4 linked regions of the Homo sapiens genome follow. The protein of the gene in region 1 interacts with the protein of each later gene in a pairwise test. Each region holds a gene or a part of one and is shown in the gene's direction. Other genes may lie near its edges.

Region 1 (7,028 bases):
GATTCTCCTACCTTAGCCTCTCGAGTAGCTGGGATTACAGGTGCCCACCACCACGCCCAGCTAATTTTTTGTTGTTGTTGTTTGTATTTTTAGTAGAGATAGGGTTTCACCATGTTGGCCAGACTGGTCTTGAACTCCTGACCTCAGGTGATCCGCCCACCTTGGCCTCCCAAAGTGCTGGGATTACATGTGTGAGCCACCGCGCCTGGCCATGTTCTCCATTAAGTTAGAATCTCCTGTGACATCTTTTTTTTTTTTTTTTTTGTTTGAGGGAAGGTCTTGCTCTGTCGCCCAGGCTGGAATGTAGTGGTGCAGTCACTGCTCACTGTAACCTCGAACTCCTGGGCTCACGGGATCCTCCCGCCACAGCCTCGCTAGTAGCTGGGACTGCAGGCACACACCTGTAGTCCCAGCTATTTGGGAGGCTGAAGTGGGAGAATCGCTTGAACCCAGGAGGCAGAGGTTGCAGTGAGCCGAGATCAGGCCACTGCACTCCAGCCTGGGCAAGAGAACGAGACCCTGTTCCAAAAAGAAAAAAAAAGATAATACAGTGTTTCCATTGTTAATCAATGCACGGTCTAGAATCTTTGATGGAATTATGGACATTGCAAACACTTTCCAGAGATCTATACTCACCACGTTCAAAAAGCAGGCTTCTGTTCTAAGCAGGTGGGGGTAGGAAATCTCTCTTTCTTTTAATATAGTAAATGTTTGATCAGCGATCTTATATTTAATATTTGAGGTACTTGAATTATTATTATTTTTTAATCCTCTGAATGTATGTAAACAGTTAAATCTTAATGTAAAGCCCAATGTAACACTGTGAGAGTAAGTGGAGACTGAGCTGTGTAGCTCCGTCTCTTCTGTTGAAACTCTTCAGGATGGATTTAGTGCGTGTTAGGGCTCAGGGAGGACAGGTTGAGGGTTAAGCATCCCAAGCATATGTTTATTTCTGGCTGAGTATTTACAGGGCTTAAAGCCTATGCATTTTGTCTTTCCGCCTAGGACAACAAAAGTAAAACCAGCATGGGTTTTGGCTCTCACTGTTGTTTTTGCCCTCTGTAAGGTTATATAAAAAACACAGAGAAATTAAACTACGGGAAAGAACATCAATATAAGCTGACCGTCACTGCCTATGACTGTGGGAAGAAAAGAGCCACAGAAGATGTTTTGGTGAAGATCAGCATTAAGCCCACCTGCACCCCTGGGTGGCAAGGTGAGCTTCATTCTCTCCCCTGCGCTCACATCTGCTCTTAAAACTGATGTATGCGGCAGCAACCTAGAGTGTGTGTTTTCCTTCTCTCTTCCCCTGCTGACTTGTGGACCAACACAGGATGGAACAACAGGATTGAGTATGAGCCGGGCACCGGCGCGTTGGCCGTCTTTCCAAATATCCACCTGGAGACATGTGACGAGCCAGTCGCCTCAGTACAGGCCACAGTGGAGCTAGAAACCAGCCACATAGGGAAAGGCTGCGACCGAGACACCTACTCAGAGAAGTCCCTCCACCGGCTCTGTGGTAAGGAGACCAGGCGTTCTTGCATCCGGCTGGCTTTGGTGAAGGTGGGAGGGACCTTTACAACTGGAAATACTTGTGTGTGTTGTGTTCATAATTATAAACTGTGACAGAGAATCTGCATTTCTGAAGTGAACTTTGCTGCCTTGCTGGCTAGTTTTCATACTGGATGGGCTTCGGGGGTGGGGCAGGGGGTGGACATCAACTCCTAAACGTCTATTCAACATGTTGTGTATATGTGCATTTTAAGAACCACTGGTGGCCAGATGTGGTGGCTTATACCTGTAATTCCAGCACTTTAGGAGGCCGAGGTGGGAAGATCACTTGAGCCCAGGAGTTTGAGACCAGCCTGGGCAACACAGCGATACCCCATCTCTACAAAAAATTGAAAAATTAACTGGGGATGGTGGCATGGACCTGTAGTTCCAGTTACTTGGGAGGCTGAGCGGGAGGATCACCTGAGCCCGGGAGGTTGAGGCTGCAGTGAGCCGTGATGGCACCATTGCACTCCACCCTGGGCAATAGAGTGAGACCCTGTTTTAAAAAAAGAACCACTGATTTGAAGGAAGTATTTCTCCAGCATACTCTGAGAATCATCCAAAAAGGGCTTCTATAGGAGTACATGGAGTGAGTTTTACATGAAATGAGATGTTTACTTACGAATTGAAGACAAAGGCCAGGGCATGGGGGCTCATGCCTATAATCTTACCACTTTGGGAGGCCGAGGTGGGCAGATCACCTGAGGTCAGGAGTTCGAGACCAGCCTGACCAACATGGAGAAAACCCTGTCTCTACAAAAAAAACAAAAACTAGCCGGGCATGGCGGTGCACGCCTGTAGTCCCAACTACTTGGGGGGCTGAGGGAGGAGGATCGCTTGAGCCCAGGAGGTGGACGTTGCAGTGAGCCAAGATCACGCCGCTGCATTCCAGCCTGGATGACAGAGTGAGAACCTGTCTCAAAAAGAACTGAAGGAAAAATATAGGTAATACAATAGCTTTTGACAAACATGAAGTAGAAAATCAGAACTAAAGATAGCCACATCTAACTTAGAATCTCAATAGATTTTCTATATCACAATATTGTGTGGAGAAATTGAGAGACAGAATTACTGGGAAACCCACCAGAAGGCTAGGTCTCTCTTTACTGTCAGCTGCGGATATTTTTCTGGTTTATCTAAATGAAGAAGAGGTGAGGTATGGATGGCTGTCATGGAAGATGTTGAGGGAAGAACATTTAGTTGACTGGTGATAAAATCCCACTAAATGAAGCAGCGTCTTCATAAATTGGAAGGGTCTTTTGTGTTTCAAAAAGCTTTTGTGAAACAGCTTTTCAGGGAGCATTTTCTTAAACTGATGAGTCTTTTCACTAGCCTGATAACAACCATGAGATTTAGGTTACTGGTTTTCTTTTTTTTTTTTTTAGACAGAGTCTCACTCTGTCACCCAGGCTGGAGTGCAGTGGCGCCATCTCGGCTCACTGCAAGCTCCGCCTCCTGGGTTCACACCATTCTCCCGCCTCAGCCTCCCGAGTAGCTGGGACTACAGGCACCTGCCACCATGCCCGGCTAATTTTTTTGTATTTTTAGTAGAAACGGGGTTTCACCGTGTTAGCCAGGATGGTCTCGATCTCCTGACCTCGTGATCCGCCCACCTCGGCCTCCCAAAGTGCTGATTGCAGGCATGAGCCACCGCGCCCGGCCACTGGTTTATAATTGAAAATTATCCAGATCACTTGAGGTCAGGGGTCTAAGACCAGCCTGATCAACATGATGAAACCCCCGCTCTACTAAAAATAAAAAATTAGCCAGGCGTGGTGCGAGGTGCCTATACTCCCAGCTACTTGGGAGGCTGAGGCAGGAGAATTGCTTGAACCCAGGAGGCTGCAGTGAGCCAAGAGTGTGCCACTACTCTCCAGCCTAGGTGACAAAGCTAGACTTTGTCTTAGAAAAAAAACAATAAATAAGAAGAAAATTATCATGTGGTAAATAAACCAAAGTAGAAAACTAGACATTATGCTGCCACAGTCCAATGATGAGCATATGGGGGTGTTTGGCAACTCTGAATCCAAATATTCATAATTGTCACCTAAATATATTTAAGTAAGGAGGTCTGGCACATTTTCTGTTTTAAACCATGCATGTAAGTATAATATATAAAATTTATTCCGTCTCTCATTTCATGGTATTAAGTGAATTTTTTTTCAGCAGAATAAAGTTAGGAAGAATAGAAATAATTTGAGTGCTTACTATGCACCAGGTACTTTTTTTTTTTTTTTTTTTTTTTTTTTGAGACAGTCTCCCTCTGTCGCCCAGGCTGGAGTGCAGTGGCGCAATCTCACTCACTGCAACGTCTGCCTCCTGGGTTCAAGCGATTCTCCTGCCTCGGCCTCCCAAGTAGCTGGGATTACAGGCATGTGCCATGATGCCTGGCTACTTTTTGTATGTTTAGTAGAGATGGGATTTCACCATGTTGGCGAGGCTCGTCTCCAACTCCTGACCTCAAGTGATCCACCCACCTCGGCCTCCCAAAGTGCTGGGATTATATGCATGAGCCACTGCGCCTGGCCTTACTCCAGGTACTTCTATGTGTGTTTTAGCTTAATGTTCCCAACAAGTCTACGAAGTAGGTGGGTATTGACCTTGTTACAGAGGAATTAAACAATTGAGACTAAAGCAGGTTAAGTAGCTTGCCCAAGCCCACATATTCAGGAGCTGAGGTTCTAGTGTGTGTGTGTGGTTTTTTTTTTTCTTTTGAGACAGAGTCTCACTGTCGCCCAGGCTGGAATGCAATCGTGCTATCTTGGCTCACTGCAGCCTCCACTTCCTGTGTTTAAGTGATTCTCCCACCTCAGCCTCCCAAGTAGCTGAGATTACAGGCATCTGCCATCATGCCTGGCTCATTTTTGTATTTTTGTAGAGACAGAGTTTCACCATATTGGCCAGGCTGGTTTGAACTCTTGACCTCAGTTGATCTGCCTGCCTCAGCCTCTCAAAGTTCTGGGATTACAGGCGCAAGCCACCACGTCTAGCTTCAGGAGCTAAGATTTGGACCAAGGTCTTCTGTTACTCAAGAGGCCAGGCTGGTCCAGCCAAGGCCTGCTGCTCCGAGTAATAGCTTAGTCAAGAAGGAGCTTGCAAAATCTTTTCCTGTGGACAAAAAAAAATTTTTTTAATTTGAACATGGCAATACATAAGAATGGTTGGAAAACATTTTTTATGTTTTTTGACTTAGTAATTTCATTTCTAGGAATTTATTTTAAGGGAATAATCATGGAGACACATAAAGCTGTGCATGCAGGTGAGGTTTATAATAGGAAAAGGTTAGGGACAGCCTCTGTGCCCACCTGGGAGGCTGGTCAGTAGGTGATGCTGTATCTGTACAATGAAATGCTATTCAGGCCGAGCGCGGTGGCTCACACCTATAATCCCAGCACTTTGGGAGTCTGAGGCAGATGGATCGCTTGAGCCCAGTAGTTGGAGACTAGCTTGGACAACATGGCGAAACCCCGTCTCTACAAAAACACAAAAATTAGCCGGGCATGGTGGCACACACCTGTGGTCCCAGCTACTTGGGAGGCTGAGGTGGGAGGATTGCTTGAGCTCAGGAGGTCAAGGCTGCGGTAAACCAACGCTGCACCACTGCACTGCAGCCTGGGCGAGAGAGGAGACCCTGTCTCAAAAAAAAAAAAAAAAAAAAAACAACTATTCAGATAGTTTAAATTACATGATAGAAGAATATTGCTAGGAATATATATGTATTATGCACATACATAGCAGGACTCCACTTTTATTGTATTTGTTTATATATTTTTGAGACAGGGTCGCACTCGCCCAGGCTGGAGTATAGTGGCACAGTCACAGCTCACTGCAGCCTCAACCTCCTGGGCTCAAGTGATCCTCCCATCTCAGCCTCCCAAGTAGCTGGGACTACAGGGATGCACCACCACACCTGGCTAATTTTTGTGTTTTTTGTATTGACAGGGTTTTGCCATGTTGTCCAGGCTGGTCTCCAACTCCTGGGCTCAAGCAATCTGTGTGCCTTGGCCTCCCAAAGTGCTGGGATTACAGGTGTGAGCCACCAAGCCCTGCCAGGACTCCATTTTTCTAAGAAAACGCATCATTTTTGTGTATATTTACCAAAGGAGGACTGGGTGTTTATACTAAAATGGTATAATTTGAATCAGATTACAAGAAATGCTTCCTTTCCCTTCCTTTTTGTTTTTTTTTTTTTTTTTTGAGACGGAGTCTCGCTCTGTTGCCCAGGCTGGAGTGCAGGGGTGCGATCTCGGCTCACTGCAAGCTCCGCTTCCCGGGTTCACGCCTGGCCCTTTCCCTTCCTTAAACAAATCCATGGTTGTTATTTTTATTTTTGTAATTTAAAACCCTGATTTTTGAAGAGAAGTAAACTGAAAGGGCCAAGCGTGGTGGCTCACGCCTGTAATCCCAGCACTTTTGGAGGCCGAGTCAGGCGGATCACGAGGTCAGGAGTTCCAGGCCAGCCTGGCCAACATGGTGAAACTCCGGCTCTCCTGAAAATGCAAAAATTAGCCAGTTTTAATGGGGCGCGCCTGTAATCCCAGCTACTCGGGAGGCTGAGGCAGGAGAACAGCTTGAACCCGGGAGGTGGAGGTTGCAATGAACCGAGATCGCGCCACTGTACTCCAGCCTGGGGACAAAGCAAGACTCTGTCTCGAAAGAAAAAAAAAAAGTAAACTGGAGCCAGCAGATTGCCTAAGTGTAAGACAAGCACGTGCCTGGGGGCTTGAGGTGCGCGGGACCTCTGGCTCCTCACATGAGTTTCACCGAGCACTGTGGCTTCAGGTGCGGCCGCGGGCACTGCCGAGCTGCTGCCATCCCCGAGTGGATCCCTCAACTGGACCATGGGCCTGCCCACCGACAATGGCCACGACAGCGACCAGGTGTTTGAGTTCAACGGCACCCAGGCAGTGAGGATCCCGGATGGCGTCGTGTCGGTCAGCCCCAAAGAGCCGTTCACCATCTCGGTGTGGATGAGACATGGGCCATTCGGCAGGAAGAAGGAGACAATTCTTTGCAGTTCTGATAAAACAGGTAGGGTAATAGCTCTGCAAGCGATGCCAGGCCCCAGTGTCCAGTAGGGTGGGTGCCAGCGGCAGGCTCCCTCTCCTTTCCCAGGGTCCCCTGCCAGCCTGGTGCTCGTAGGCCATGTGCCATGCTGTGTGCCTGGGGCACTTGGTTCCCTAGAGCCACGGCCTGGGCATTTGGGTATTAGCTGTTGTTGCTCAGTGGGGTCCACGGTGATCACAGGCTCCGCCTCTCAGGAAAGCCCAAGTGTATTTGTTTCTAAGCCCTGCCTTGGCTTAGCCGAAGAGTTCATTTATGCAGATGAAATTGTGTCTTCAAAATCCATTCAAGAAACAGCTTTAATTTCTCCTTTGGATCTTTAGTTGGCAATTTACCCATAGAAACTGCCTTTGCAGATATGAATCGGCACCACTACTCCCTCTATGTCCACGGGTGCCGGCTGATCTTCC
Region 2 (6,007 bases), on another chromosome or scaffold:
TATATTGAAGTGAATTTCATTTATTATTTATTATTGAAAGTCAGTGTTAAGTTTTTCTGGGAAATTCATGTGGTTAAGTCTGCTCAGAAGATGGTGAGTGCTGAACACTATGGCTGGCCACAGGCACCCTGCCCTTGGGAGCCTGAGGCATTGGTGGATCATCCCATGCTGTGAATGGACAGGAGCTGGGGCTGCCCCTCCTCTACATTGCCCACTTCCCTCCCTCCCATGCATACCTTTCCTTTGCTTTCATTTGATGGCCATGTTTACCATTTTACTGAGTAGAATCAGGAATAAGGGACCTTCCACAGGTTGTCCTCTGCCTTCCCTGCCCTCCCAGCCACATCCAGCATCCTCCCTATATCCCCTTCCTGACGCCTCTTGTTGCTGGAAACGAACCATGCAGCTCGTAGTCAGTCAGCCCTTCCCTGGGCTGGGATCTCATCTCCCACCTACCCAAGGACATTCATTCAATGAGTATCTCTCTCGTGCTACCACCCCTCCCCATATTAGGTGGTGCCCATCAGCAGCACACAGACATGAAACATGCCTCCCTGTCTTGGTCCCACTTCCCTCTTTAGCCACCACTTCATGTTTCTGCCCTCTTAATGGTAAAACTCCTCAAAAACGCTTGTGATACTCACTTCTTCAGCCTTCTTTCCCATGGGGATGAAGGCCCAGGGTTGAACATGACCGTGAATCCCAGTCCTTGGTAGCATCCCATACTTGATCCTCCCCTCCTTGCTCCTAGGATGTCCGTGGTCCCCCTCCTGCCCTGCTGGTTCCTCCTCATCCCCCAGCTGCCCCCTGGATTCATTCTCTCAACCTCTCCTCTGCATCGTCTGTACCTACTCCTCAGAAATTTCATCCAGTTTCATGGATTTTTAAGTAACATCACTATTCTGACAGCTCCAAATTTGTATCTCAAACCTCTGAACTCCACACTTGAACATGCTACTGCTTCCTTGAAATCTTCATTAGACACCTATTGGATGTCTGGTAGCCACTGCAAAGTTAACATATCCCAAATCCAGTTCCCGGCTTTCTTCCAACCAACCCCTTCCTTTGGTGGTCATCTCTGTTGATGGCGGCTCCATCCTTCCAGCTGCCTAGATCAGGTGCCTTGGAATCATCCCCTCACATCAGCCCATTCACATATCCTATTGGCTCTATTGAAAATACATTCAGAATTGGACCACTTGTTATGACTTCCATGGCCACCACGTGGCTCAAGCCACTATCATCTTCCTTCTGGATTATTACAGTAGGCTGCAGTTTAGTCTTGGTAGACCTGGTGGGTGCCTTTCAAGTGAGTTAAGATGGAGGTCGTGTCACTTGCTTGCTTACAGCCTCTCAGTGGTTTCCCTCTTTCACCTGCAATCAAAGGCAAACTTTGCAGGGGTGGCCAGGGCCCTGAGTGATCTGCCCCCCATTTCCTCTCTGACCTCCGCTCCTTCCTTGAGCATGGTAGGCAGTTCACAGTTGGGCCTCTGAGTTTGCTGTTCCTTTTGCCTAGGACTGTCCAGCCCCTCCATTCTCCCCAGCATCCCCATGGCTGATCTTGTACTCACTTCAGATCTCTACTCAAATGTCTGCTTCTGTTAGGCCCTGCTTGCCCATCTCCGACCTTCTTGTTTCCATGGCTCTGCTTTGTCTTTCTCATCTTCAAACCATGTTTCTCTTGTTATGTGTTCCTTGTCTGTCTCTCCTCACTAAAGTATAAATTGCTTAGGGCAGGGCCTCTGTTTTGTTTCAGTGCAATATTCCTTGTACCTAGAATGATGCCTAGCATCTGGAGGAGGCTTAATGAATATGTTTTGGAAGGGTGAATGAATGTGTCCGATTACTAAAATCAGTCTCTATAATTTAAGTGGTTTGGGATGAGATTTTTTTTTCCTTTTTATTAGATAGAGTCTCGCTCTGTTGCCCAGGCTAGAGTGCAGTGGCACAATCTCGACTCACTGCAACCTCCACCTCCCAGGTTCAAGCAGTTCTCCTGCCCCAGCCTCCCAAGTAGCTGGGACTACAGGTACCCATCACCATGCCTGGCTGATTTTTGTATTTTTAGTAGAGACGCAGTTTCACCATGTTGGCCAGGCTGGTCTTGAACTCCTGACCTCAGGTGATCCACCTGCCTTGGCCTCCCAAAGTGCTGGGATTACAGGCATGAGCCACTGCACCTGGCCAAGATTGTTTTTCTTGAAAAGACCGGTATATGGAAGTAGACAGCTCTAGAGTATGTTAGGTGGCAGTGGGATATTATTTTGAGTTAATTTTAAGCTATAAGCAGCAATCCACTCATTTGGAAAATGTCAGAAGAATTAATTATAGATGCATAAAACCAAAGTAAATTAAATAAGATAAGCCAAACAAGACAATTACAAGTAATGTTAAGTAACACATCGAAGCAGTTGTTTTTGGATTAATACCACCTTTTTCATTAAATATAAATTGGAATTGGATTTATAAATTAAAGGGAAGTGGTTTCTCTAATTTTTTTTTTTTTTTTTTTGAGATGGAGTTTTGCTCTTGTTGCCCTGGCTGGAGTGCAATGGCGTGATCTGGCTCACTGCAACCTCCGCCTCCCGGGTTCAGGCAGTTCTCCTGCCTCAGCCTCCCAAGTAGCTGGGATTACAGGCACGTGTCACCATGCCTGGCTAATTTTTGTATTTTTAGTAGAGACGGGGTTTCACCATGTTGATCAGGCTGATCTTGAACTCCTGACCTCAGGTGATCTGCCCGCCTCGGCCTCCCAAAGTGTTGGGATTACAGGCATGAGCCACCGAGCCCAGCCTAGTTTTTTTTTTTAAATTAAGCTTTATCATAGGAAGTTGTTAAATTTTTAATAAGTACATTTCTGCTTCTCAGTTGATGTCATAACTTAGTTATATTCTTAGTAAAAAGCAAAGGCTTAAGGCTGGGTGTGGTGACTCATGCCTATAATCCCAGCACTTTGGGAGGCTGAGGTGTGCACATCACTTGAGTTCAGGAGTTGTAGACTAGCCTGACAATACAGCAAAATCCCGTTTCTACAAAAAAATACAAAAATTAGCTGGGTGGCATGCGCCTCTAGTCCCAGGTATTTGGGAGGCTGAGGTGAGATCATTTGAGCTTGGGAGGTCAAGGTTGCAGTGAGCCAAGATTGTAACACTGCACTCCGGCCTGGCCAACAGAGCGAGACCTTGTCAAAAAAAAATAATAATAAAATTGGCCAAGCACAGTGGCTCACTCCTGTAATCCCAGCACTTTGGGAGGCCGAGGTGGGTGGATCACCTGAGGTCAGGAGTTCAAGACCAGCTTGGGCAATATGGTGAAACCCCATCTCTACTAAAAGTACAAAAAATTAGCTGGGCACAGTGGCACTTGCCTATAATCCCAGCTACTCAGGAGGCTGACGCAGGAGAATCACTTGAACCTGGGAGGCAGAGGTTGCACTGACCCGAGATTATGCCACTGCACTCCAGCCTGGGCAACAGAGTGAGACTCTGTCTCAAAAAAAAAAAAAAAAAAATTATATAAAATTTTAAAAAAGCAAAGGCTTAAAAAGTTTTTAAGTATATATAGAAGATTAATGAACAATAGTTAACTTCCTAATGCTCAAATATTTTTGAATTTATTACATATTGTTTCAGGTTTGAAGATCAGCTTCAGCAATGGTTGTCTGAAGACTCAGGAGCATTTACGGATTTAACTTCCCTTCCCCTCTATCTTCCTCAGACTCTAGTGTCTCTTTCTCACACTATTGAACCTGTGATGAAAACATCTGTAACTACTAGCCCACAGGTGAGAAGAACGTATACATTTGGCATTTACATAAGAATTAAAGATTGAGAGAATGGCTGGGGAAAAAAGTAATATCACGATTTATCCTATGATGTTTTGATGACCGACAAATTATTAGCTCAAATTAGACCTTTTCTTAAACTTTATCCATATCATTGTTAAAGAGACCCAACTGATTTTGAGTTTCTGCCTACGAAATAAATGAAGAATAGAATTGAAATATTCTTAAGAACTGAATAAGACCTGTAACTGTGTGCTGATGTGTAATTAAGGGCATTAAGGTGATGACAGCAGCTTCTGTTGGAGCACATATTGTCTGAGCTTTGGCATTACCCAGACCTCTCTTCTGGGATTAATTTTTCCTGAGGAAAACTAATGAATGAGGAAGGTAAGCTCCCAGAAGTCAAGAGCCTCACCCAAGAGTGTTCAAGTAGTGAGTGGTCAGGTTGCTTTTCAAAGCCAGATCCAACTGGCTCCAAAGCCTAAGGTCTTTTTACCTTACCATTCTTCCTTCAGTGGTTAAAGATGCAAAAACAGAGTTTCAATCACAGATATGTGCCACTGAACAGGTAAAAACTGTGCTCCTGGACTGGCTTTAGGAAGTCCTTCAATAGAGGAGAAAAGCAAATTAAAATGATGTACTGTTTCCATTCATCAGTTTGGCAAATACTTTAAAAATATTCATACCCTTTGAATTACCAATTCTAACCTAAAGAATTCTGACCTACCAGATATTCCCCAAAAATTAATGTATAAAAATGTTTACTGTAGCATTATTGTATGAAAGTCGAAACAGAATAAATATCCGAAGATGGGAGTCTGATTAAACAATTATAACACATTCATGTGATAGAATAATTCACAGCCCTTGACGATGATATTTTCTAAAAATGACTGGCTGGGCGTGGTGGCTCATGCCTGTAATCCCAGCACTTTGGGAGGCTGATGAGGGAGGATCGCTTAAGTCCAGGAGCTTGAGTCCAGCCTGGGCAACATAAAGAGATCTCATCTCTACAGTACATAATTAGCCAGGCATGGTGCTACATGCCTGTTGTCCCAGCTACTCAGGAGGCTGAGCTGGTAGGATCACTTGAGCCCAGGAGTTTGAGGCTGCAGTAAGCTCCGATCATACCACTGCGTTCCAGCCTGGGTGAAAAATGACTGACACTGGAAATTGTTCATGATAGAATACAAAGGCAAACAGTCTATATACAGATACCAGCTGAATGTACGAGCTAAATGAGGCTGGAAGGATATACAAAGGATAATTTTTTTCCCTCTGTAAAAATAAATGACTACTCAGATGAGGTTTCTAACATGATCCAGATCTAGTACCTTCCCAGAGATAGGTCGTGGTTTATTGACATCCCAAAACTGTTCAGTTTCTTTTTTATTCAAATAGAGTGACATGATGAGGGAGCAACTGCAGCTGTCAGAGGCGACAGGAACGTGTCTAGGCGAACGACTAAAGCACCTGGAAAGGCTGATCCGGAGTTCAAGGGAAGAGGAAGTTGCCTCTGAGCTCCATCTCTCTGCGCTGCTAGACATGGTGGACATTTGAGCAGCCTGACCTGTGGGGAGGGGGTCTCTCCCGAAGAGTTTCTGTTTTTACTCAAAATAATGTTATTCTCAGATGCTTGATGCACTGTTGGAAATGTGATTAATTTAATCATGCAGATAAACCATTTAAATGTCAGTCTCCCAGTTTTTCATAATGAAAAGTTGTTTCCCCTGTGTGACCTCTTCAATATTCTCCTATATTCATGACCTCCTCAGATTGTCACCCACCAGCATATGCTCTGAGGCAGTTTAGAGCTTACATTTCCATGTATAAAAGGCGATTCATTCTCTCAGCAAACTTGCAGTCCTTGATGTGCCAGACATCAGTGATGCAGAGATAAAGTAAGACACAGGGCCTCTGCCTGCTAAGCCCACCCAGCTTACATCCAGGAGAGTCAGGTACTTATGTACATAATTCTCAGAGAATGTGCATGAGGCGTGGGCCTGAATTGGTAGCAAGGAAAAAACAGAGGATGGAACAGGGTCTGGTTGGGTAGAGGAGAAACAGAATTCCCGGAGAGGAGTGCAGGGGTGTAGCTGGAGACAGTGTACTTGAGAGGACATGATGAAAGCGTGGAGGTACCAGCTTGGTTGTGTGGCCAGGTGAGGGGAACAGGCCAGCAGGGTGAGGTCAGAGATTCTTGTCACCTTCTTCTGAGAGCTG
Region 3 (7,463 bases), on another chromosome or scaffold:
GCAAGGGTAATGCAGACCGTCTTGTGCAAAATAAAGAACGGACGTTGTTGAGTTTTGCTTGGATTACTGTATGTTTCTGCTTTCATTCCATTTTAAATGTATGTTTCCTGTAAATATTTCACGAGGAGAAAGCGCCAATAGAAGAAACTGTTTTGAAATGAAAATTCTCTTCCTGGTTTAATATAGCCTGACAGATGGACACCTAACCGCTTTCGTTTGGGAAGTACTGCGCTGGGATTTCTGTTTCTTTCTCTTTTATTTTAAGAATGATAGAAGGTCCTCGTTGGTATAGTGATGAGAAAAAAAAAAGGAAGGATACAAGGGCGAAATGATTCATCCATGTATTCATAATTCTCATGTCTTTGTTAAAAGAAATTAAGTGGCTGGGTGCGGTGGCTCACGCCTGTAATCCCAACACTTTGGGAGCCCGAGGTGGGCGGATTGCATGAGGTCAGGAGTTCGAGACCAGCATGGCTAACATGGTGAAACCCCGTCTCTACTAAAATACAAAAATCAGCCAGGCATGGTGGTGCACACCTGTAGTCCCAGCTATTCAGGAGGTTGAAGCAGGAGAATCCCTTCAACCCAGGAGTCACTGGTTGCAGTGAGCTGAGATTGCACCACTGCACTCAAGCCTGGGTGACAGAGCCAGACTCCATCTCAAAAATAAATAAATAAATAAATAAATAAATAAATAAAGTCTCATCAAAGAATCTTATATCTTCCATATCTAGTTATATAAAAGAATGGATCTCAGGATTTAGGGCTGTTCCTTCTGCACATCAGATTAAGTATCCAGACCAACAGTATTTCACTGTTCTCTTATTTCATATGATATGTGGAGGAAAACCTGTAAAAAGTGAAGTAGGACAAGGACTGTTGGAAGGTATTTTTTTTTTGAGGTAGCGTCTTGCTCTGTTGCCCAGACTGGAGTGCAGTGGCATGACTTCGGCTCACTGCAACCTCTGTCTTCTGGGTTCAAGTGATCCTCCTGCCTCAGCTTCCCTAGTAGCTGGGATTACAGGCATGCGCCACCATGCCAGGCTAATTTTTGTATTTTTAGTAGAGATGGGGTTTCGCTATATTGGCCAGGCTGGTCTTGAACTCCTGACTTCAGGTAATCCACCTGCCTCAGCCTCCCAAAGTGCTGAGCCACCACTCCCGGCGCTAATTTTTGTATTTTTAGTAGAGATGGGGTTTCACCATTTTGGCTAGGCTGGTCTTATTTACTTATTTATTGATTCATTCTTTATTTTGAAATAGGATCTCACTTTGTCACCCAGGGTGGAGTGCAGTGGCACAATCATAGCTCACTTCTCACCCTCCCAGGCTCAAGCCATCCTCCCACCTCAACCTCCTGAGTAGCTGGGACTACAGGTGTGCACCACCACACTGGGCTGATTTTTGCATTTTTTGTTGAGACAGGGTTTTGCCATGTTGCCCTGAATGGTCTTGAACTCCTGGGCTTGGGCAATCTGCCTACCTCAATCTCCCAAAGTGCTGGGATTATAGGCGTGAGCAACCGCACCTGGCCCTGGTCATTTCCTTAATAGCATGTCTATGTGATCTTTTGAATCTCAAACTACTATGGTTGGAAGGGAATCATTTGTAATTTTCCAAAGTACAAATAGGTGTGGTATGATTCCCAAAGTCTTAGCGTCTATATCTGTAAACCATATGTTTTTGTTTTTTGTTTTTTAATTTTTAGTAGAGAATTGGTTTCACTATGTTCAGGCTGGTCTCAAACTCCTAACATCAAGTGATCTTCCTGCCTCAGCCTCCCAGAATGTTGGGATTGAGCTACCTTGCCTGGCCACATACATGATTTTCCTTTTTTTTTCTTTTTTTTTTTTTTTGAGACAGAGTCTCGCTCTGTCACCCAGGCTGGAGTGCAGTGGCCCAATCTCAGCTCACTGCAACCTCCGCCTCCCAGGTTCAAGCGATTGTCCTCCCTCAACCTCCCAAGTAGCTGGGACTACAGGTGTGCGCCACCACGCCCGGCTAATTGTTGTATTTTTAGGAGAGACGGGGTTTCACTGTATTGGTCAGGCTGGTCTCGAAATCCTGACCTCGTGATCTGCCCGCCTCGAACTCCCAAAAAGTGCTGGGATTACAGGCCTCCCAAAAAGTGCTGGGATTACAGGCCTCCCAAAAAGTGCTGGGATTACATTGCACCTGACCCACATACATTATTTTCTTTCTTCTTTTTTTTTTTGAGATGGAGTCTCGCTCTGTTGCCCAGGCTGGAATACAGTGGTGCAGTCTTGGCTCACTGCAACCTGTGCCTTCTGGGTTCAAGTGATTCTCCTGCCTCAGCCTCCTCAGTAGCTGAGATTACAGGTGCGCACCACCACGCCTGGCTAATTTTTTTGTATTTTTAGTAGAGACGGGGTTTCACTATGTTGGTCAGGCTGGTCTCGATCTCCTGACCTGTTGATCCACCCGGCTTGGCCTCCCAAAGTGCTGGGGTTACAGGTGTGAGCCACCGTGCCCGGCCCCATATGCATGATTTTCTAAATCTCAGTCTGTATCTGTAAAATGAGGAACTGCTTGTCTCATAGGTAAGAACATCACTTGTTAGCTATGTGATAATAGGCAAATTATCTGGACTTTTGGAGTCCATTTACTCATCTTTAAATTTTATTTATTTAGGGACAGAGTCTTGTTGTGTTACCCAGGCTGGATTCATACTCTTGGGCTCAAGTGATCATCCCTCCTCAGCCTCCTGAGTAGCTGGGACTACAGGCACACTTAGTCTAAAATTTAGTTATTGAGAAGATTAAATGTGATAATGTTAACAGCTGTTAAATACAATTTATAGGAGCCCATTGTTTTGCACTGAGCTTCAGCACAGTAGACCAAACCAAAACAGAGTTACTCAAGGTGAATTTCTACCCAACCACGCCTAAACGAAATTGTTTATCTGACCTTCTGAGAAATCATCAAATCCCCAAACTGGTCAGTTTTACCCCACATAAGGAAGTCCATTCTGCTTAAACCTTTACAAGAAAAGTAATTTTGAAATGACTAATCTGCTTTTTGTTCTCTGTTTCTACTTTTTAAAAAAAAGTTTAGACAGGGTCTCCCTCTCTGTCACTCATACTGGAGTGCACTGGCACGATCGTATCTCACTGCAACCTCCAACTGCTGGGCTCAGGTGATCCTCCCACCTCAGTTTCCTGAGTAGCTAGAACTACAGGTGTGCAGCCACAGCCACTATGCTTGGCTAATTTTTTTTTCTTTCTCTCTTTTAAATTAAAGTTAGTTTTATTCAAACTATTTTATTCAGAGCCCAGCTAATTTTTGTATTTTTAATAGGGTCGGGATTTTGCTATGTTGGCCAGGCTGGTCTTGAACTCCTGGCCTCAAGTGATCTGCCCCCTCCTCAGACTCCCAAAGGGCTGGAATTACAGGTGTGAGCCACCACGCCCGGCTGCCCAACTAATTTTTTAAAAAATATTTTTATTCTTTAGAGACAGGGGTCTCGCTATATTCCCCAGGCTGGTCTGGAACTCCTGGCCTCCAAGGATCCTTCCACCTCTGCCTCCCAAAGTGTTGGGATTACACGCATGAAACACTGCTTATGGCCTGTTTCCGCCTCTGTCTCCTGGGTAATGGGGACCACAGGTGCGCACCGCCACGCCAGGCTAAAGAAATAAAGTGATGTACTGTATGAAGAAGTGCCGTAAAGTGATATTAAATGTAAGGTATTGTCATTATTAACGTTATTATTATTATTCCTAATATGAGATAGACTAAAGGCCATAAATCAATTGGTATTAACGCTAGAATAAGAACCATAAATTGGCCGGGCGCGGTGGCTCACGTCTGTAATCCCAGCACTTTGGGAGGCCGAGGTGGGCAGATCACGAGGTCAGGAGATCAAGACCATCCTGGCTAACACGGTGAAACCGTGTCTCTACTAAAAATACAGAAAATTAGCCGGGCGTGGTGGCGGGCGCCTGTGGTCCCAGCTACTCGGGAGGCTGAGGCAGGAGAATGGCGTGAACCCGGGAGGCGGAGCTTGCAGTCAGCCCAGATCGCGCCACTGCACTCTAGCCTGGGCGACAGAGCGACTCCGCCTCAAAAAAAAAAAAAAAGAACCATAAATCAAACGAGTCTATAAAGGAGTTCCACAGGTATTCCAATGTTTGGCTACATTATTATCAGTGTATATTATTATTGTTACTGTATTTTTAGTGTACTAAGTGAAAAACCTGGACTTGGAGCAACTGCAAGTCCCATTATTTTGAATGCCCTCACAGTGGGGTTGGGGCGGAGGTGGGGGAGGAAATAAAAAAAACAAAACCAAAACAAACAAACAAACAAAAACCAAAAAACAAACCACGAGACCCGGATGTAGGCAAAAACTACATTTCCCAGAATACCTCACCCCCTCTCCACTATATATACAGTCCATCCGGGTTCTTTGAGATGCTGTTTGGCGACTCGTCGCCATTCCCGGAGCAGGTCGGCCTCGGCCCAGGGGCGAGTATCCGTTGCTGTGTCGGAGACACTAGTCCCCGACACCGAGACAGCCAGCCCTCTCCCCTGCCTCGCGGCGGGAGAGCGTGTCCGGCCGGCCGGCCGGCGGGGCTCGCGCAACCTCCCTCGCCTCCCCTTCCCCCGCAGCCTCCGCCCCGCCAGGCCCGGCCCGGACTCCCGAGCCCCGGCCTCCTCGTCCTCGGTCGCCGCTGCCGCCGGGCTTAACAGCCCCGTCCGCCGCTTCTCTTCCTAGTTTGAGAAGCCAAGGAAGGAAACAGGGAAAAATGTCGCCATGAAGGCCGAGAACCGCTGCCGCCGCCGACCCCCGCCGGCCCTGAACGCCATGAGCCTGGGTCCCCGCCGCGCCCGCTCCGCTCCGACTGCCGTCGCCGCCGAGGCCCCCGTTGATGCCGCTGAGCTCCCCCAACGCCGCCGCCACCGCCTCCGACATGGACAAGAACAGCGGCTCCAACAGCTCCTCCGCCTCTTCGGGCAGCAGCAAAGGGCAACAGCCGCCCCGCTCCGCCTCGGCGGGGCCAGCCGGCGAGTCTAAACCCAAGAGCGGTAAGGACGGGCCTGCGGCAGTGGGCGGGGGCGACTGCCCCTGCTGCTGGGGAGAGTCGTTGCTCTCATCGGCTGGGTTACTCGGGGACAGGCTCCACTTTCTTTTATAGCTCCTACCTGCCCTTTTCCATGGCTCTCATTTGCAGTTACATTAATGAGCGCTGTGCTGCGTGGTTTACGTGGATCATTTACATTAATACTCAAAACTGCTCGATTAAGCAGGTGCTGTTCTTATCGCCATTTTGCATATGATGAGAAAGGGTAAGGTCACCCAGCTAGTATTTGGCTCACAGCAGGCCTTAAGACTTGGTTTGTGTGACTCATCAGTCCACGCTCCTAAAACCACTAAGTTGTTCTACCCTTTAATGTTGAATTAACATTGGATAGTGTTCAAGTTTAGATGGGTGGGTGAGGGCCCAAGGACCTTTCAAACTCAGATCTCTTATTTAATAACCTGGTCCCAGATCCATTCCTCTGTCGAAGAGGAAGTCATCCTTCAGTGGCTATTCATTGTGGGGTTAAGAGCGCAGACTATGAATTCAGTCTTTTTGGGTCCCAGTTTGCCAGACCTTGAGTGAGTGCCCCGAGTTTACTTACTTGTAAAGGTAGGTGGAGGTAATATAATTAAATAAACTTAAAAAACTAATTAAAAACAAAACAAATGAACTAAGGTCTTAGGATATCTGGCGTCTATTTTGCGCCAAATACACATAATGTCTATTGTTGTGTGTTGGACTATAGGATTGTCCTTTAACAGGGAAGGTTTTATTTCTGTAATCAAGTCTGTCAATATTATGACCATGTTGATAATAGCTACCTTTAATTGAGGGCTTACCATGTGCCAAGTACTAGGTGAAGTTTTTACCTCTGTTTTCACTGTGCCAGTCACTGACTTGTCTACCAGGGTGAAATTGTTCATATTTAAAGAAGGAATAAACTGAGCAGGTAGGATGTTAGGAGTTGGCAGAGGCTAGAGTCCCGGTGTTCTTCATTTTATTTCGAAGTTTGTACTAATCTCTGCTCTCTTTTGTATTTCAGTCACATTAGCAGTAATAGGAAGGTGTTTTCAGCGACAGTGGGGATGTTGTGGCAGAGAGGGAAATATTTGAAGTCCCTAAATGTGGAGGTCCAGTTTAAAACTTGTCAAGATTAAAAAAACTGTTTAGAGTGAGACCGGGCGCGGTGGCTCATGCCTGTAATCCGAACACTTTGGGAGGCTGAGGTGGGAGGATAGCTTGAGCCCAGGAGTTTCACACCAGCTTGGGCAAGATAGTAAGACCCTCGTCTCCATAAGAAAAAAAAAAAATTAGCCGAGTGTGGTGGCACACACCTGTAACCCTACCTACTTGGAAGGGTAAGGTGGGAGGATCGCTTAAGCTCAAGGAAGTTGAGGCTGCGGTGAGCTATATCACGATACTGCATACCATCCAGCCTGGGTAACAGAGACCCCCATCTCTAAACAGTAAAAAGAAAACTAAGGCTGACTTAAAACAAACAAAAAAAACAGAAAATTGTAAGGTCTGCTAACTCGCTCAGAGTTCACCTGCTGGATATGGCAAACTTGTTTACCTGGTGTGAGACCATTGGAGTATGGGTTCTCGGGCCGTGTCAGGAAATGGCATGTATGCAGACTGATTTTGCAGTTCTGCACATGCGTAGCTTTGCCATAGATCCCTCAAAAGATAGAAGGTAACCAGTCCTTTTGGTCAGTGTTGGAACTGGTTTAGAGTGGTCTGTTCAAAGCAATTGATAAGTAAGTTTATTTTTGTACTCTATTCCCAGATGTATGTTAAGGATTTGGTTCTCCAACTGTGAATTCTCAACTAATTTTTCTGGGGCTCCTCTTTAAGCCACTAACATACATTCATTAGTCAGTTGCAATAAATGCCTTAAGTTTATTTCTTAGCAGTAGGTGAAAGCTTGTGACAACTTAAAATAAAACAAACAAACAGGTATTTAAGGAATTTTACTGCTATGTCCTTCACTTTGAATATGTTGGTTAGTGGAATTAACTCTGATTACCCAACAAGATGATACAGAATTCTATAGTAGTTTGACCAAAGCAAGTATTTGTCATTGTTAACATTTCAAATGGGCTGGGTGGCTATAATCCCAGCACTTTGGGAGGCTGAGGCAGGCCGATTACTTGAGCCCAGGAGTTCGAGACCCTGTCCTACAAAAAAATAAATGAGCCGGGCGTGGTGGCACGCACCTGTAGTCCCAGCTGTGAAGAGGCTGAGGCAGGGGAGGAGGAAGAGCACTTAAACCCAGAAGTTCGAGGTTGCAGTGAGCCACGATCACTCCACTGCACTCTAGCCTGGGTGGCAGAGTGAGACCCCGTCTCAAAACAAGAAAACTTCTGTAAAAACTCATGTAGGCCGGGTGCGGTGGCTCACGCCTGTAATCCCAGCACT
Region 4 (7,028 bases), on another chromosome or scaffold:
ACAATGCTTAAAGACGTTTTACACCTTGTAATCTTCATCTCGGCTCTCAAAGGTAGCTATTTTGGCTCTATTTGTGGTTCAAGTATCTTAAAGTATGGACTCCTTGTACTTATTAAGAGTTGCAGTATAAAACTCTCATCACTAATAACTTTCTTTTCTTTTTATTCTTTTGAGACAGAGTCTCGCTCTGTCACCTGGGCTGGAGTGCAGTGGCACTCAGTCATAGCTCACTTAACCTCGAACTCCTGGGTTCAAGGGATCCTCCTACCTCAGCCTCCCAAGTACATTCATGCACCACCACACCCTGCTAATTAAAAAAAAAAATTTTGTGTGTGGAGACAGGGTCTCACTATGTTTCACAGGCTGGTCTCAAACTCCTAGGCTCAAGTGATCCTCCTATGTCAGCCTCCCAAAGTGCTGGGATTACAGGTGTCAGCCACCAGACCTAGCCTAACTTCTTACAAGTTATTTTGTGCCTAGTATTTTGCTGGTCACTGCAACAAGGGAGAGGGTAATTATAGGAAACAACAATAACAAAATGACATATTTGAATATGCATGTGGGTACTGACTATTGTTTCTGCGTCACTGGATTCTATTTAAAACTTTCATAGGAAACAGAGCAAATGCAGCGTTACAATCAAAGACTTATTGAGGAATTGAAAAACAGACAGACTCAAGAAAGAGCAAGACTGCCCAAGATTCAGCGCAGTGAAGCCAAGACTCGAATGGCCATGTTTAAGAAGAGTTTGAGAATTAACTCAACAGCCACACCAGATCAGGACCGTGATAAAATTAAACAGGTAAATATGCAAGTTAGTCTCTTCTCTTTTAGGTTTAAAATTTTTGAATGACCATTAGAAGTTCTACAAAATTCCTTTCTTTCTAAACAATTAGAGCCACCTTAGGCTTGTTGATGTTCACTTTAATTCTGTGGGCTGGGACTATAGATACATGGCATATACCAATTAGTCTTCCCCAGGATGGTGGTCACAGAGAGCAAAGCCCTTCCTCCTATACCCCATACCAGCTCCTGAGCTAGACTGGTCCTAAGACCAGCCCTGGGAATGAGATGACTCGGACAACTTTTCAAGTCAAGATATATGGCCTCACTGTGATACTTCTGTAGTCATGGTCACACACACAAATTAACTCAGATCACTAAGCAGATAGGAGGATCAAGGTTTTAATCAGAAGTTCCTGCTCTTCTCTGAAGCTGTGATGTGGACTCCAGGTTTGAGTCTCAGCATATTATTACTTGTAGCTTCAGTTTATTGTGCCTTGTTTTGTTAAATTCCTTTATATCTTCAGAATATATAGAAATCACATGCTTCTGAACTATAGTTTATCTTTTTTTCTTATTTATAGTTTGCTGCACAAGAAGAAAAGAGGCAGAAAAATGAGAGAATGGCTCAGCATCAGAAACATGAGAATCAAATGCGAGATCTTCAGTTGCAGTGTGAAGCCAATGTCCGCGAACTGCATCAGCTGCAGGTCAGATACAGAAGCCTGACAGCAAAGCCCATAGGATGCGGCAGCACAAGTGGCTGCTTTTGAGAGAACAGTAGCTAGCCAAAGTCAACTGCATCATACACGAACATGCTGGGTTTGAGAGGTTCTGTTTTTTGTACAGATCCAAATGAAGATCAGTTTGGTATCATAGGCACTTGTGTAGATTATATATAACCATGATTAATGTAAACATAAAGCTAAATTGTAACCTACGAAATTGAGTCTTTCAAAAGCAGTATTGAGTATGGTTTTTAGTATATTTTGCAAGAAGATGTGGAGAGTTTCAAAATGATGTAGACAGTTTTGTTGTCATATTCTGAATTTTTTGTCAGATTCTAAATTTAAAATTTCTTTTCCATTTAGAGGGAAATAGTTTATTTTCTTCTAGGTTTTTGAAATAAGTGATAAGTTAAATATATGGGAATTTTTCTCCTAGGAAATTTAAAAGTTATTCGAGAGAGGGCTGATTTAGGACCTTACATAGAATGTACAGCCCATCTAAAATGTTTAAGATTTCAGAGTAGTGTATAAATGTGGGTATCTATATATTTGCTTAATTTACTATAGTAGAACAGATCCTAATAGATTGGCCTAATGGGCCAATAGATCTTTTACAGGAATAGATCTATTAGGCCAACCCTTTAGTACCAGATCCCACATTCTGTACTCACGGGTAAAATGTATGCAGGCTGCCTTCTGAAGTGTCAGTTTTATGAGCAAATCTTCTTAGAAAGGAAAAACAAAAGCTCAAGCTAGTTCTTTTTAAGTTCTTTTTATATGGTATGTAATAGTTCTAGCTTCTAAACTTGTAAAAATGAAGCTATGATTCATTTCCTAATTCATGGCCCTTGGTTTTTATAGAGGAAAACTTGAATCTCAGTAATAGCATGATATTTGATGAGTAATTTATTATTATGGAAGATAATTGTATTTGTGAAAAATTGCTTAGTTGATCTGAAATTTTTTTAAATCCCAACTTTATTTTCAGAATGAAAAATGCCACTTGTTGGTTGAGCATGAGACTCAGAAACTGAAGGAGTTAGATGAGGAACATAGCCAAGAATTAAAGGAGTGGAGAGAGAAATTGAGACCTAGGAAAAAGGTAATTTTAAAAGCTTTAATTAAAATGATATGTGTGTACTCGTCCGTCTACCCAGCTATTGGCTCTTTACCTACTGTGTCAGGTACAGTGTCAGGGGCAGGAAACATAGAGATGAAAAGACAAAGTTTTTGTCCCCAGAAGTTTTGGAATCTAGTGACAAGCAGTTAGGAATTGGTAGGGTCATTGCTCTGAAGGAGGTGAGTACAGGATACAAGGGAAAGGAACAGATTTTGTAAGCAGAGGAGGAGGAGAGCTTAAATCTGCCTGGGTAAGTCAGGGAGGGTCTTCAAGAGGAGATGCCTTGCAAGCCAAGTGAGTCTTGAAGGGTGAGTAAGAACTTGCTAAGCGGATGGGCTGATTGGAGTGGAATGGGATGATTTGAGTAGGGAGAAGAGAATGAGTGAAAAGGAAGCGTACAGAGAATTGTAGATCGTTCTCTGACATTGGAGTATGAGAGGGGGTGTGTGCCAGTGTGTAGTCATTAGGGAGGAAGAAAAGGAAGGAAGGAAGGAAGCGATGACAGCTGAGTCTGAACAGGTCAACTGGAGCCATATTAAAAGGCCCTGTTATTCTACGTAAACTTGAAATCTGGTAAAATAGGGATGGTGTCTTCTCTGTCTCACCCCTTTCCCTTGTTTGTGCTTGACACCCTATTCACCTGGTCTTACTGGCTAACCATTTCACCTGAGTTTTTGCTATCACTATATGATCTCTGACCCTTCGTTACTCAAACTTAAACCTTTGTTTTGGGGGGAGCTTCCTGCCTACTGTACATTTCCACCATTCCTTTCTTCCATCCATACAATCAGTCAAGGAAATATGTATTTAGCTATGTGCCAAAGGAAGTGAAATGACTAAATGAGTTCATAGTGTGGCTTTTTGTTTGTTTGTTTAGACAGAGTCTCACTCTGTCGCCCAGGCTGGAGTGCAATGGTGCGATCTCGGCTCACTGCAACCTCCGCCTCCTGGGTTCAAGCAATTCCTCTGCCTCAGCCCCCCAGGTAGCTGGGATTACAGGCATCCACCACCACACCTGGCTAATTTTTGTATTTTCAGTAGAGACGGGGCTTCGCCATGTTGGCCAGGCTGGTCTCAAACTCCAAACCTTAGGTGATCCACCCACTTGGGCCTCTCGAAGTGCTGGGATTATAGGCGTGAGCCACCATGCCCGGCCCATAGTGTGGCTTTTTAATTTAAATTTTCTTTATTGTTAAACTTTTTGAATAGGTAATGCATTCATGTAGTTTAGAATTCAAAAGGTACAGAATTGTAAACGGTGTAAAATCTCCTTTACCTACTTGCAGCCTAGCATCTGCTTCAAACACCCTAGTTGAACTAGTTGACAGTGGTCACAAGTGAGTTGCTAATAGTCAAATCCTATGGCCTTATCTAACTGTTCTCCTTAAAAGTCTTGTTTCTTAAAATTCTCCTCTCACCTGGCTTTTGTGACACAGCTCTGCTCATTCTCTGTGTTCTTTATCCCCTTTTGTCTCCTGAAATGTAGACATTTCTCAGTTTTGCCCCTGTAGTAAAGAACAGTCTTTACCTTGATGATTTTATTGCTAGTCATGGCTTCAACTGTTGCAGATAGACAACTCCAAAACTTAAATGGTAGCAGTTGTATAGAGCATGAATTGTAAAGTCATACAGGTGTGTGTTCAGATCTCAGTACTGACACTTACTGATTAATTTTCTCACTTACCATTTCTAGGCCTAGTTTTCCTAATTTGTAAAATGAGAGTGATACTACCTATTTGGTGTTGTTTATATAGCAGTTATCTAGTACCTGAGCTATAGTAATGGTTCAGTGAATGGTTGCTGTTGCTATTATTGTTTCTTGTTTTTATTATCAGTTTGGGCAGTAAGCGCCCATTTTCCATCTGGGTGTTATGCTCCTCCTCATTTCACCTAGGCCTTGTGACCTTTTTTGGTCACTGTATCTCAGTAGCACCTATACTGAACCCCAAACATTCTGTATCTGCTCTCCTTTCTTTGTTTTTCTTTGTAACAATTCATCACCACCAGACACATTTGTTTATTGTCCCCTCTTGCGAGTGAGAATATAAACTCCTTAAAAGCATGCCATGATCGCTTCATTTATTGATATGTACCCAGTTTCTAGAACAGTTCCTGGCACATTGTACAGATGACTACATACCTGTTCAGTGTTGACTAAAGAGTATAAACTCAGTAGAGAGAAAACCAAACTCAGCATCCTTTTCCTTCATCTCCATCTCACCTTTCCCCACTCACTGCAGGCCCACTCACTGCCAGATGTTCCTTCATCTCCATCTCACGTTTCCGCGCTCACTGCAGGCCACTCACCATCAGATGTTCTTTTCTGCATTCCTGTTCTCTTAACTGACATCTACGCTAGAAACCAGAATTATTTTTCATTTCTGTCACACCCTACATTCAATCAGGCGCCAATTAATTTGGACTCTTTTTCATAATGTGTCTCCTTTCTTTCTCACTGCTATCCTGGTGCTTGTTTAAATTATTCAGGAATTTCCTAATGGGCCTTCTAATTTCTAGTTCCCTTTCCTTTCTTCCCACTCGCCTGCCATCACCGGAGGATTTATCCTCAAGGACATCTCTTGACACTGTCATACTGATGTTGAGAAATCTTCAGTTCCATCAGAGTAAAATGTAAATTAATGCCTCAGTTTGACTGTGAAGCCTTCATAGTGCCACACCTGAGTCACAGTCACCCTTTCTAGCTTCCTCTCCCACTAGCCACTTTGTTCCCAGTCCAGGTTCCAGCCTTGGGTATAATGGCCACTCCTCATACCAGCTCCTCGGCTTCCTGCCTTTGTGCTGTGTTTCGGCTCTGTTTCTGGCATGCCTTCCCTATGCTCCCTATCAAATTCTTATCTTTCCTTCAGCACTAAGCTCATGTTTCACCTCTTTTGAGAACCCCTCCTATATCCTTCCTTCTTTTCCTGTGCTTTGTACCTCTACAGCACCACTTATCCCTGAATCACTTCTCCACAAAGTCATTGATACCTGTAACAAAATGCCATAAACTGGAGGCTGGGGAGTCTGAGACCAGGGTGCCAACACGGTCACGCTTTGATGAGGGCCCTCATTTGGGTTACAGACTGCCGACTTCTCACCGTGTCCTCACAGGGCGGAATAACAACTCTCTTTAGCCCCTCATGAAGGCACTCATCCCATTTGGAGGGCTCTACCTCATGACCTCATCCCTTCTCAGAGGTCCCACCTTCTATGCATAGTATCCGCACATTAGGGATTAGGTTTTTATATGGATTTGGGGGGCACAGACATTCACATCACAATGGTGCCTCTTACATTTCTCAAGCACTTATTTTTGCTCTGTATTATGGGGATAAAAATGATTCTGATTTAAGTTGTACCTTTAAACAGCTTATATTATAGTCTAGTGTGAAAGAAAATACAGGCGCATCGTAACTAAAATAACAAGTAGGCAGGGGTAAGTGCCATGTGGGAGAAACACATAATAGTTAATAATAGGTACCATATATTAGAGTGCATAGTATGTGTAAGTACATCATTATCACATTTATACTTCACATAGCAAATTATCCCTATTTTTACAGCAGAGGAATTGAGGAATTAAATGGTTCTCTAATATAGGGAAGTTAAGTAATGGACCCAAATTGTCCATTTATGTGGCTGAGCTGGACTTGCACATAGGGCTGTACAAAGCTTATGATCTTAAAAAATTGAGCAGGCGTGTCTTCTTGAGGATTATATACAAAGAAAGTGTTTTGGACAAGTAGTTTTATCTTGGCTGTCAGCATAAATTCTATATATAATACCAGCACATAGCAATTTCTTTTTCCCTTTCTTTTTAAGACACTGGAAGAAGAGTTTGCCAGGAAACTACAGGAACAGGAAGTATTCTTTAAAATGACTGGGGAGTCTGAATGCCTTAACCCATCAACACAGAGCCGGATTTCCAAATTTTATCCTATTCCCAGCTTGCATTCCACCGGATCATAACAAAGGGAAGCATTCTGTGCGTGGGTTTGGCTCTTTCAGTATGTCATTCTGTTCTCATCTTCTGCCACAGTCTCTCAGATAGCTCATGAAGACAATCACCTGCCTCACCTTCTAGGTGTTTTCCTTTTTTGTTTTTTTTGTTTTGTTTTGTTTTTAAGCAAAGATGAAGGGAAAACGAACTAAGACAGACGCTAGGCCATGTTGGCAAAGTAGCATCTTGGTGACTAAGGTGACTTTGTATATTCATCTTAAAAATTATGTTCTTTAGACACTGCTACCTGAAAACTGTTGGAGAAATAATGTTTAAAGTTATTTAAGAAAAACTGTTACATCACTAAGTATTAATAAATTCTTCTTACCTGACGTAACTTCTCAATGCCTAAATTCTGTAGTTGAAGCTCTGCTGCAGAGAGTTGGGATAATTTTCT

What was found.
Region 2: the proteins of CLSTN1 (region 1) and MCM3AP interact in a two-hybrid assay, tested with the Homo sapiens proteins (one study listed by BioGRID and IntAct).
Region 3: the proteins of CLSTN1 (region 1) and RNF10 interact in binary tests that used the Homo sapiens proteins (3 or more experiments, as listed by UniProt).
Region 4: the proteins of CLSTN1 (region 1) and SLK interact in a two-hybrid assay, tested with the Homo sapiens proteins (one study listed by BioGRID and IntAct).

The regions. Positions count from the first base shown.
Region 1 is NC_000001.11:9,743,952-9,750,979, reverse strand, and holds part of CLSTN1 (calsyntenin-1 isoform 1 precursor), read left to right. Parts: intron 1-1,066; coding exon 1,067-1,216; intron 1,217-1,333; coding exon 1,334-1,519; intron 1,520-6,336; coding exon 6,337-6,585; intron 6,586-6,974; coding exon 6,975-7,028. UniProt on the Homo sapiens protein: Postsynaptic adhesion molecule that binds to presynaptic neurexins to mediate both excitatory and inhibitory synapse formation.
Region 2 is NC_000021.9:46,234,605-46,240,611, reverse strand, and holds the end of MCM3AP (germinal-center associated nuclear protein), read left to right. Parts: intron 1-3,632; coding exon 3,633-3,783; intron 3,784-4,285; exon of another isoform or gene 4,286-4,388; intron 4,389-5,185; coding exon 5,186-5,344; 3' UTR 5,345-5,479; downstream 5,480-6,007.
Region 3 is NC_000012.12:120,529,920-120,537,382, forward strand, and holds the start of RNF10 (E3 ubiquitin-protein ligase RNF10), read left to right. Parts: upstream 1-4,436; 5' UTR 4,437-4,777; coding exon of another isoform or gene 4,778-4,892; coding exon 4,893-5,049; intron 5,050-7,463. Other genes in the region: uncharacterized LOC128071547, read left to right, coding at 4,778-5,038. UniProt on the Homo sapiens protein: E3 ubiquitin-protein ligase that catalyzes monoubiquitination of 40S ribosomal proteins RPS2/us5 and RPS3/us3 in response to ribosome stalling.
Region 4 is NC_000010.11:104,019,121-104,026,148, forward strand, and holds part of SLK (STE20-like serine/threonine-protein kinase), read left to right. Parts: intron 1-613; coding exon 614-802; intron 803-1,367; coding exon 1,368-1,493; intron 1,494-2,499; coding exon 2,500-2,613; intron 2,614-6,453; coding exon 6,454-6,600; 3' UTR 6,601-7,028. UniProt on the Homo sapiens protein: Mediates apoptosis and actin stress fiber dissolution.